Regions from separate parts of the Homo sapiens genome. Here region 2 is linked to region 1. Evidence: fine-mapped expression QTL. A gene starts in region 1. The other region holds a variant in brackets. All regions are shown on one strand. Distances are from middle to middle.

Evidence for each region.
Region 2: its variant is fine-mapped to the expression of RREB1 in monocytes after interferon gamma (Fairfax 2014, PIP 0.95).

What each region holds. Positions count from the first base shown.
Region 1 is chr6:7,106,190-7,110,570 of GRCh38, forward strand. RREB1 (ras responsive element binding protein 1) reads left to right here and starts at 1,772. Exons shown (of 13, transcript NM_001003699.4): 1 at 1,772-1,871. RefSeq lists an enhancer at 581-640 and silencers at 991-1,470, 1,531-1,750, 2,541-3,030, 3,051-3,140.
Region 2 is chr6:7,251,820-7,256,200 of GRCh38, forward strand. RREB1 (ras responsive element binding protein 1) reads left to right here. Exons shown (of 13, transcript NM_001003699.4): 13 at 1-161. Among named protein-coding and RNA genes, the nearest start is that of SSR1, 59 kb to the right of the region's middle. The variant G/T (reference allele first, on the strand shown) is at 1,679.

The DNA of each region.
Region 1 (4,381 bases):
GTCCAGCTGCTTTTCCTTGGTTCTAAAGAGTTCTATTCTGGCCAGGACCCATCCCGAGACAGACACTTCTGTCTGCAGCCCTGAAAACTAGAGGTCAATGGAAGGGCTCAAATTAAAGGCCCACAGTTGGGCTTACAACTCTCCATGGTGTTCAAGCCTTCTCAGAGGAGCTGGTGTGGTGGAGCCAGGGTCAAAGGTCATAGTAAATAGAAAGTAGCCAGCTTTCTGCCTGCATAACATCATCTTGCCTAACCAGACTCAAACGCTTAATTCTACTGTAGTATTCTTTGGACATTCTTCTTTAGAACTACGGGGGCGGGGGGGGGGGGGCGTGTTTATTTTCAACAACCACAATCATCCTTATCTTTCTGAAGATGTTTCCAAAGGCTGAGAACAGACCCCTTTCAGAACCTCGGTAGGAGAAGTATTAACAGTTGGAAACATGTCAGCTGCTTTATGGAGGAAGCACAGCCCAGGCCTGGTTTCTCTGGGCTCCGTGATAACTTGGGGCAAGGCAGCCAGTGCGAAGCGTGGTGGCAGGAGCTGGAGAGATGGAGAGCGGCTCGGAGAAGGGCCCCTGCTTTTCAGAGTTGAAACAGGAGCCCTCTGAGAGAAAGAGATACTGCGTGTGGCTTCTCTGAAGCCTTGGAGGGCGACGTGGATGACACAGCATCAGCCATTCCATCGCGGGGTGGGGACACAGTGGCGGCAGGAACCGTCCTCAGCCCCTGGCGGCCACGGCAGTTCCCCGCTGAAGCATCCTTTGTGGGGTGTGGGTAAGGGAGGGGGACCAAAGTCGGGTCGGAGTTGAGTTTGTTAGACGGCGAGCACACTCAGGGCGGCAGCCCGAGTAAGAAGGATGGCCCCGGGAGAGAAACGGCTCGAAGCTAGGGGCGGGGTGAAGCGCCTGCTCCTTAATCTCCTGCCCCATCATCCACTCGCCCCACCTGGATGCAGAGCGAGGACCGCGTGGAAAGGAAACGGCGCGGGCGGGGCTCCCCCTCGCAGATGCCTCGGAGACCCAGAGGGGCGGCGTCAGGCCAGGGCCCCGAGCCCTACGCCCCCCATCCCCCCAACTCCAGCGCCTCTGAGGTGCCCCTCTCGCAATTCCGAGGCATCACCGTGTCTCCCCCGCCTCCGTTAAAATAGTGAAACTGCGGAGTGAAGTGATGGAAAGCCGGGGGCGGGGAGTCGCCCGCGGCGAGGGGCTGCAGGGGAGGGGGCGCGGTGGCCGAATAAGGTGGCCCGCGAGCAACGGGACGATTGGGATCGCAGCCAGTCGCGGCCTCCCGGACCCTTCCCCTCGGGCAGCCCGGCCCTCCCATGGCCCGGGGCGCCTTGGGAGGGCGTAGGGCAAACCTGGGGCTGCGGTGGGGGGTGGGGAGGGGACTCCACCTCCATCCATCCCGGGATGGCAACTGCGGTCACCCTGCTAAAGTCGGGGCGGGGGCGGCGGTCCTCCCCCTCACCCCCCCCAGTCCGAGCGCCGCCGCCGCCGCCGCCGCCGCCGCCGCGGCCGCTCAGTAACACGTCCCCAGGAGACTCGCAGGAGCAACACGTGATGTGTCTACTTATCAGGGTGAGAGGGGGAGAGCGAGACTCCGAGCGTGCGGGCGAGGAAGCTGGGCGGGGGGCCGAGACGGGGGCCGGGACGACGGCTGGGGCGCCGGGGTCGCCAGCTCCTCGCCCACCTCCCTCCCTGTGGGAGAAGAGGAGGAGGGGAAGTGACTGCGGAGTTGATGAACTTTGCACATCCAGAAACGCCATTTTGATTCCTTTTCCGGAACAAGTTTGCATCTCTCCTCGGTCTCTCCCTGAAGCCCACCGGTCCCCAACGCATCATGCCAGGGAGCCAAGCGTCCTGCCCGGCCGTAAGTACGTGCCCCGGATTCCGACTCGCGGTACGCCGGCGGCAGCGAGAAGTCTGGGGCACAGCCGGAGCGACCTTTTAAAGAACTTTGGGGATGGGGAGGGTGAAGTCTGCAGAGCGCGTTGTACTTTTGAAACTCGGTGTGTCCCGGAGCCGGGGACCCGCACGCCCCACTCCGCGCAGCGTGCGCTCGGGCCGGCGGGGCGGCCAGGGATGAGCGGGGCAGCCCTCTCCCCTCGGGCTGCGCGCCGGGCCATTCCTCCTCCTCCTCCTCCTCCTCCCCTTCCTCCGCTCTTTTCCCTTTCCCGAGCCGCCGGCTCTGCCAACCAGCTCCCAGCGCGAGCCGCCGCAGCGCCCCGCCAGCAGGACCTGATGCGCATCCATATTAGCCGTCCGAGCGCAGGAATCCGGCCCGACCCGCGCCGCCGAGTTTATTTTTAACCAGCACCGCCGGGACTCGGATGGTGCGCGCACCGCCGGCCAGAAACATCTTCCCAGCGCTGCTCTCCATCTTCCGCCCTCTCTCCCTCGACATCCTCCCCCCCATGTGGGAGGGGAAACTTTTCTCCTACATACTTTCGAGTCCTTCTCGGGCCGGGAAGCGCGGAGATGACGGCGCCCGCCCTCCCGCCGCCGCCCTAAGGTATCCGGGGGTGCCTGCCCGGGGTGCTCGCGCGGGGGTGCCTGCTCGGGGCTGCTCGGTGGGAGCATCCGCCGCGCCCTGCTCTGCGGACTTTGAACCTCCCGGGCGGACGGCGCCGGCCGGGAGGGGGCCGCGGGCAGCCCCGCGCCCTCGCGGGTTCCCGGCTGGCGGTCGTGGTCACGCCGACCACCGCCCCGGGGGGCCTGGGGAGGAGGGGACCGGGCCCTAGCCGTGCGGGCACGTATTGTTCCCTCGCCCTTCCGTTGGCGGGGTGAGTGTTTTCGTGGGAGCCCTCGGTGTGGAGCTAGCCTGCCTCGCGGGCGGGGGGGGTGGGGGGCTCGGCGCCGTCACGAGCACAGGAAGGAGGCCGGGAGCATCCGAGGCGGGGCCGGCCGCCGGGGCCCGCTCCGCCGCCCAGCTGTGGAGCGCGCTCGGAAACTTTTGTCCGCCGCCCGCTGGACCAGTTTTTCACGAGTTCTGGGGCTTCCCTTCCTCCTCCCATCCCGGCCCCCGGCGTCTAGCTGGGTGGGGGGAGGGGGCCTGTTGCTGCCCCCCCCGCCCCCAACTTCCCGCACAAGCCTTGGGCCGGGCCCCCCGCGCCCCCTCCCCGCTCGCGGTCTCTTAGGAAACTGCGACCTTAATGGTTGCTAAGGAGCAGGGGAGGTCCTTCCCGTCGCCGACCCCCTCCCTGGGAAGCGGCGTGTTTTCTGGACCGGGCCAAGGGCGCGTCGAGGATGTGACCTGCTCCGCGGCCGCGCGTGAGTGCGGGGCGCGTCGGCCGAGCCCACCGATGGGCGAGGCCACCTTTCTCTCCGGGCGGGGCGGGGAGCTGGGGGACGCGGGGACCCCACGGGGTGCGGGCCCGGGCCGCTTGACAGGCGCCGCGTGCAGCTCGCGCCCCTCGGCCGCCGTGCATCCGTGATGGGTTATAAAAGAGGAGGAAAGTATTTCTCCTTGCTCAGCAGATTTGCCCTCCCTCGCTCCTTACTGGTTAGGAGATAGAACGTGAGCCCAGATCCGGACGAGCAGTTCACATTCCATTACGAAATTCTACACGGCTTCAGAGCCAGCAGCAGCACACATTCGGGGCACTTTGGAGGGGTTTTCTTCGTTTGAGGATGCTCCTGCTGCTGCTGCTTGTGATGGTGGTGGATGTGGAGAGAGACAAAAGGGTGAATAAAAAAATATAACGTTTTGGTATGTTGAAAAACCTGTCCGGGGGTTTTCATTAGTAGAAAATTGAACCCTCTTAGAGTTTAGATTTAAGCTTAGCTCTTTAAAAGCCAGTGGAAATAAAGTTTGCCTGTTGAATGGTGTTGCTGGAAATAGCGAGGAATTTCTGTCTTAAGAAGAAATGATTTCTGCAAAGGCAGAGTTGCTAGTGCATCTCCATTATTTTTGATATTTTTTTTCCCCTTTATATATGTAGTGGACCCTGCATGTGTGCGAGTTGATTCTGAAATAAGTTTAATTGAAGTGGAAGGTGGGGAAAAGAGAACTGCCAAGAAAAGAATGTGGTTTAGTTTTGTTTTTTCACACCCATGAAAATCATCCTCTAGATTTGGTGCTTTTTCAAGTAGGCAGGTATAGTTTCTAAGACATATTTCAACCCGGAAGTCTGAGTTAGATAGAGGCCAAAGTGTTGGCTAAAACCTCTTTGAAAAACAAACGTTGAGTTTTGTGCTATCTTCAAGAGTCCACAGAACTTCTGAAGGAATGGGTTCGAGCTACTCTACAAGTAATTTATACAAAGACAGAATCACTAATTTTAGGGGTGGTGTGTGTGTGTGTGTGTATGTGTTTACCTCCGCCCTTTGGAGGGAGCCTTCTGGGTACCCGCTGATGGGTCCTGCTTTGATGTGCTTTGA
Region 2 (4,381 bases), 150 kb after region 1:
AAACTGGTTTATGCCACATGAACAGAGAATCACAAGTTTGGTTTTGGTACTTTTTGTTCCTCTTTGTATTCAGTTGTATAGAACTTCCAAATTCAGAATGAGAAGAAAGCTGTTCTGTATCAAACCATTTAAGCAATAAATGTTATATTTTAAAAGCTGCAGATTGCCGGTCACGTGGCCGTCCTGTGATTTGTTGTGATCCCATCCCCAAACCCACAGCCCACTTGGGGCAGGTCCCAGGTGTGCAGTACCATTGGGGGGAGTCACAGGTGCCCAGGAAAGCTCTTGTCACCCAGGCAGCATTTTTATTTGCGCTGGAGGCTGTGGCAGTGACTCTTGCCTATGCTCCCAGCACTTTGGGAAGCCAAAGCAGGAGATTCACTTGAAACCAGAAGTTCAAGACCAGCCTGGGCAAAATAGTGAGACCCCTATCTCTAGAAAAAAATGTTTAAGAACTAGCTTGGCATGGTGGTACATGCCTGTTGTCCCAGCTATTTGGGAGGTTGAGGCAGGAGGATCGCTTGAGCCCAGGAGTTTGAGGTTGCAATGAGCTACGATCGTTCCTCTGCCCTCCAGCCTGGGGGACACAGCAAGACCCTGCTGTATGTAAAAGCACTCGGCTGCAGTTGTGAGAGCTGCTTTGAGAGCATGTGGAAAGTTAAGTGCATGGCCACTGTCAGAGCTTCAGAGTGGAGATCTTGGTGTTGGGTGCACAGGGCCAGGAGGCTGGACCTAATGAGGCACCACAGTGCAGGCCACTCTGTCATTGGCTAAAGCCAGCATTTTTGTTTCCTGTGCAATAATGCCTAAGAAGTCCGCCTCGCCTCTTCTTCCTCCAACCCAGTGGTAAGTGATTGAGTCAGCACCTAGTGGAGGGAGAACAAAATCTGTTAGTGTGACCAGATTTTGGTGAGACGGGAGGGGACAGCAACCCTAGGGCTGGGGATGGTGCAGGTTAAAACTCACATTTGGGTAAAATAGCAATCAGCAGAGCCCCAACTCCTAGCAGAGCCTCAACTCCTATAACTAGGGAGTGGCTCTCAAAAAGCAACACTGGGGGCTGGGTGCGGTGTCTCACGCCTGTAATCCCAGCACTTTGGGAGGCCGAGGTGGGTGGATCACAAGGTCAGGAGATTGAGACCATCCTGGCTAACACGGTGAAACACCATCTCTACTAAAAATACAAAAATTAGCCAGGCATGGTGGCAGGTGCCTATAGTCCCAGCTACTCGGGAGGCTGAGGCAGGAGAATGGTGTGAACCCGCGAGGCAGAGCTTGTATTAAGCCGAGATCGCACCACTGCACTCCAGCCTGGGCGACAGAGTGAGACTCCATCTCAAAAAAACAAACACTGGGCCGGGAGTGGCGGCTCACACCTGTAATCCCAGCACTTTGGGAGGCCAAGGCGGGAGGATCACTTGAGGTCAGGAGTTCGAGACCAGCCTGGCCAACATGGTGAAACTCCATCTCTACTAAAACTGCAAAAAAATTTGGGTGTGGTGGTGTGTGCCTGTAATCCCAGCTACTCGGGAGGCTGAGGCACGAGACTCCCTTGGACCCAGGAGGCAGAGGTTGCAGTGAGCCGAGATGCCGCCACTGCACTCCAGCCTGGGCCAACACAGTGAAACTGTCTCAAAAAAAAAAAAAAAAAAAAAACGAACACTGAAAGAAGTTGGTT[G/T]TGGAGGAGGCTGATTGTGGATAATGCTAAAATGCATTGAGTGCACTGTACCATACACTGCTAAGTGCCACCTCCCTGCAGGACCAGAGCTGTGGCTGTGGTCCTTAAGCTTTTTCAGGCCCCTCTGTTGAAAGACGTAGAATTTAACACACATTTATATGTGGGAGCTTGGGGGATCCGCATGCCTGAGTGGGCGGTGGCAGGTGGAGATGTACTAGCCCTGGGTAAGCGGATCTCAAACCTCAGGTCCTCCGCCCAAAGACATAGCCAACCACCTGCGCTGTGTTAGAGATGCAGGACAAAGAAGTGGCCACGAGCTGTGTTGCTGGGGACAAGCTGGCTGGCATGACAATCCCAGTTCTGCCTCTTCGGGCTGGTGAATGGCCTTGTGCCTCAATTTCACCATTCCTAAGAAAGGGATAGCGATAGTACCTGCCTCATGGGCACTGTTGTGTGGATGCTATGAGTTAATTACATAAGGTGCATGTTAGGGGCTCTCGTTATTGTTTCTACAGTCTTCTCATGGGAATGCTTCCTTGGTTGCCTGGTGAGGAAGTAGGTAGAACTTCACCACACACATTCATGGCACAGTGCGGGGAACAGCCAGAGGAGGGCCTTGTGGGAGATCACCAAGATGCAGGCACTGTCTTTGAACCCCAGGGAGTCTTGTCACCTTCTCCTACCTGGCCTCCTCTGGCCCTGTAATCCCACTACCTTCCCGCTCAGCCTGTGACCTCCCCATGGCCCCAGGACTCTGCCTGGGCCTTGGTGCTTATCCAGCATCCCCACCCTGGACCAAAGCCTCCTCCACTGGAGGAGGGCATGGGGCATGGGGATGGGGGAGCTGGCGGCATAGACCTAGCACCCAGGATGAGGCCTAGTCCCTTGTTACCTTACTGCTCAGAGTGTCGTCTGAAGACCCAAAGCATCAGCATCCCTGGGAGCTTGTTAGAAATGGCAACCTCAGGTTGACCTGGTGCGGTGGTGCATGCCTGTTGTCCCAGCACTTTGGGAGGCTGAGGCAAGAGAATCGCTTGAGGCCAGGAGCTCAAGGCTGCAGTGAGCTATGTTCACACTCCAGCCTGATTGACAGAGCGAGATCGCATCTTCACAAAAATAAAAACGTAAACCAAAAAATAAAAGAAATGAGAACCTCTGACCCACCCAGACCTGCTGAGTCAGAATTTGCATGTGAACAAGGGCCACAGTGGATATGTGCACACATTGAAGTTTGAGAAGCTCCGGTCTAGACCCCAAAGCTTGGTTCAGAATAAGGTGGATGGCGGACTCGGCAGCTGGCTGCAGAGACGGCTGTGGATTCTCCCCCTCAAAGACAGAATCCATCTCAGAATGAGTGGGCAGAAGCCACATATGGCTTTAGAGAGTGCCGATCTTGGCCCTCCAGAGGTTCCTTCCACAGTCCCTACTCCAGCCCCAGCACAGACTCAGCCACTGCCTAAACCCGAGTGCCCCAAGAGTCTTGTTTGGGGTTTCTGCCTGTTTGCCATCCTTGTGGATTCCAAAGGCTACTTTGAAAGGGCTGAGGAGCGAGTGGGGCCTCCAACCACTGGCCAACAGCGCCAGCTGCCTGCTTGCCTGTCCTGGTGTTAAGCCTTGGGCCTGGAGCGCTCAGGCCTCTCCCCTTCATAACCACCTCCCTGAGGAGGACAGGAGTGAGGGAGGATGACTAGGCTTATTTTAAGCTTGTAATTGAAGGTTGCTCTTTAGCAACAAAAGAGTCCCCTCCAATTCTAGACTGCCAGAGTCAGTGTCCTAAATAAGAAACAAGCGGTCACTCCTTTCCCGTTTTACTGTTAGGGGAAGGAAGCCACAGCCCAGTGGGGAAGTGACATCCCTGGCCCTTGCCGTTCACCACTTCAAGTCTTGCCCAGCTGTCAGGGCAGGAATTCATGTCCCCACGGTGGCATCTGCTTCCCAGGCTGTGGGGCCAGCAAGGGGCTCAGCTGCTCCCCAGCCCTGCCTTCCTCCATGGATCTGACATGACTCTTTTATGGGAATTTACGTAAAAGTAACGCCTTGCTCAGTGTGGAAAATTTAGGAGCTTCAGGAAAATATAAAGAAAATTAAGGAAGTCATCTCGCTTCTCAAATACCGTGTTAATTTGGTGAGTGTTGCTCTTTTCATTGGGCCTCACTTTTCCCTTCCTCATTCTCAGATGTGTTTGTACAGGACTTTGCACACTGCAGTGTTTTCCTGTGGTTTTTGTTTCTTTTCTTCACCCAAGTCCAGTGAGCTGTGAAGGAAAAAAAATCCTTATTCCTTCAGAGCAGGGACGAGCATTGAAATGATTTGCCCAGGTCAGCTGGCTATTGAGTGCTTTTGTTGGGATGAAATTCTCCACCAGAAAAATCCTAAAACAGAAGTCCCCAAGAATGGGTGGTGTGTGTCGTCCACTGAAAAGGGAGTTACTGAAAACTAGGAATGCGTGGCCTCTAGGAAACATGGCACTGTTGTGATTTGGCACATAGATATTTGGCATACATATTCCCAGGGTCACTGAGTAAATTCCCAACTGTTCCAGTTCTCTTTTGCTGCATGACGAAGAACACCAAAACTTTGGGTCAGGATTCGGTGGGTTGGGCAGGGCTCTGCAGGGATGGCTCATCTGTCCTCCATGAGGCATCAGCTAGGGCAGAGCCTCCAAGACCATTTTTTCTCGCTCATATCAGGTGCCTCTGTGTG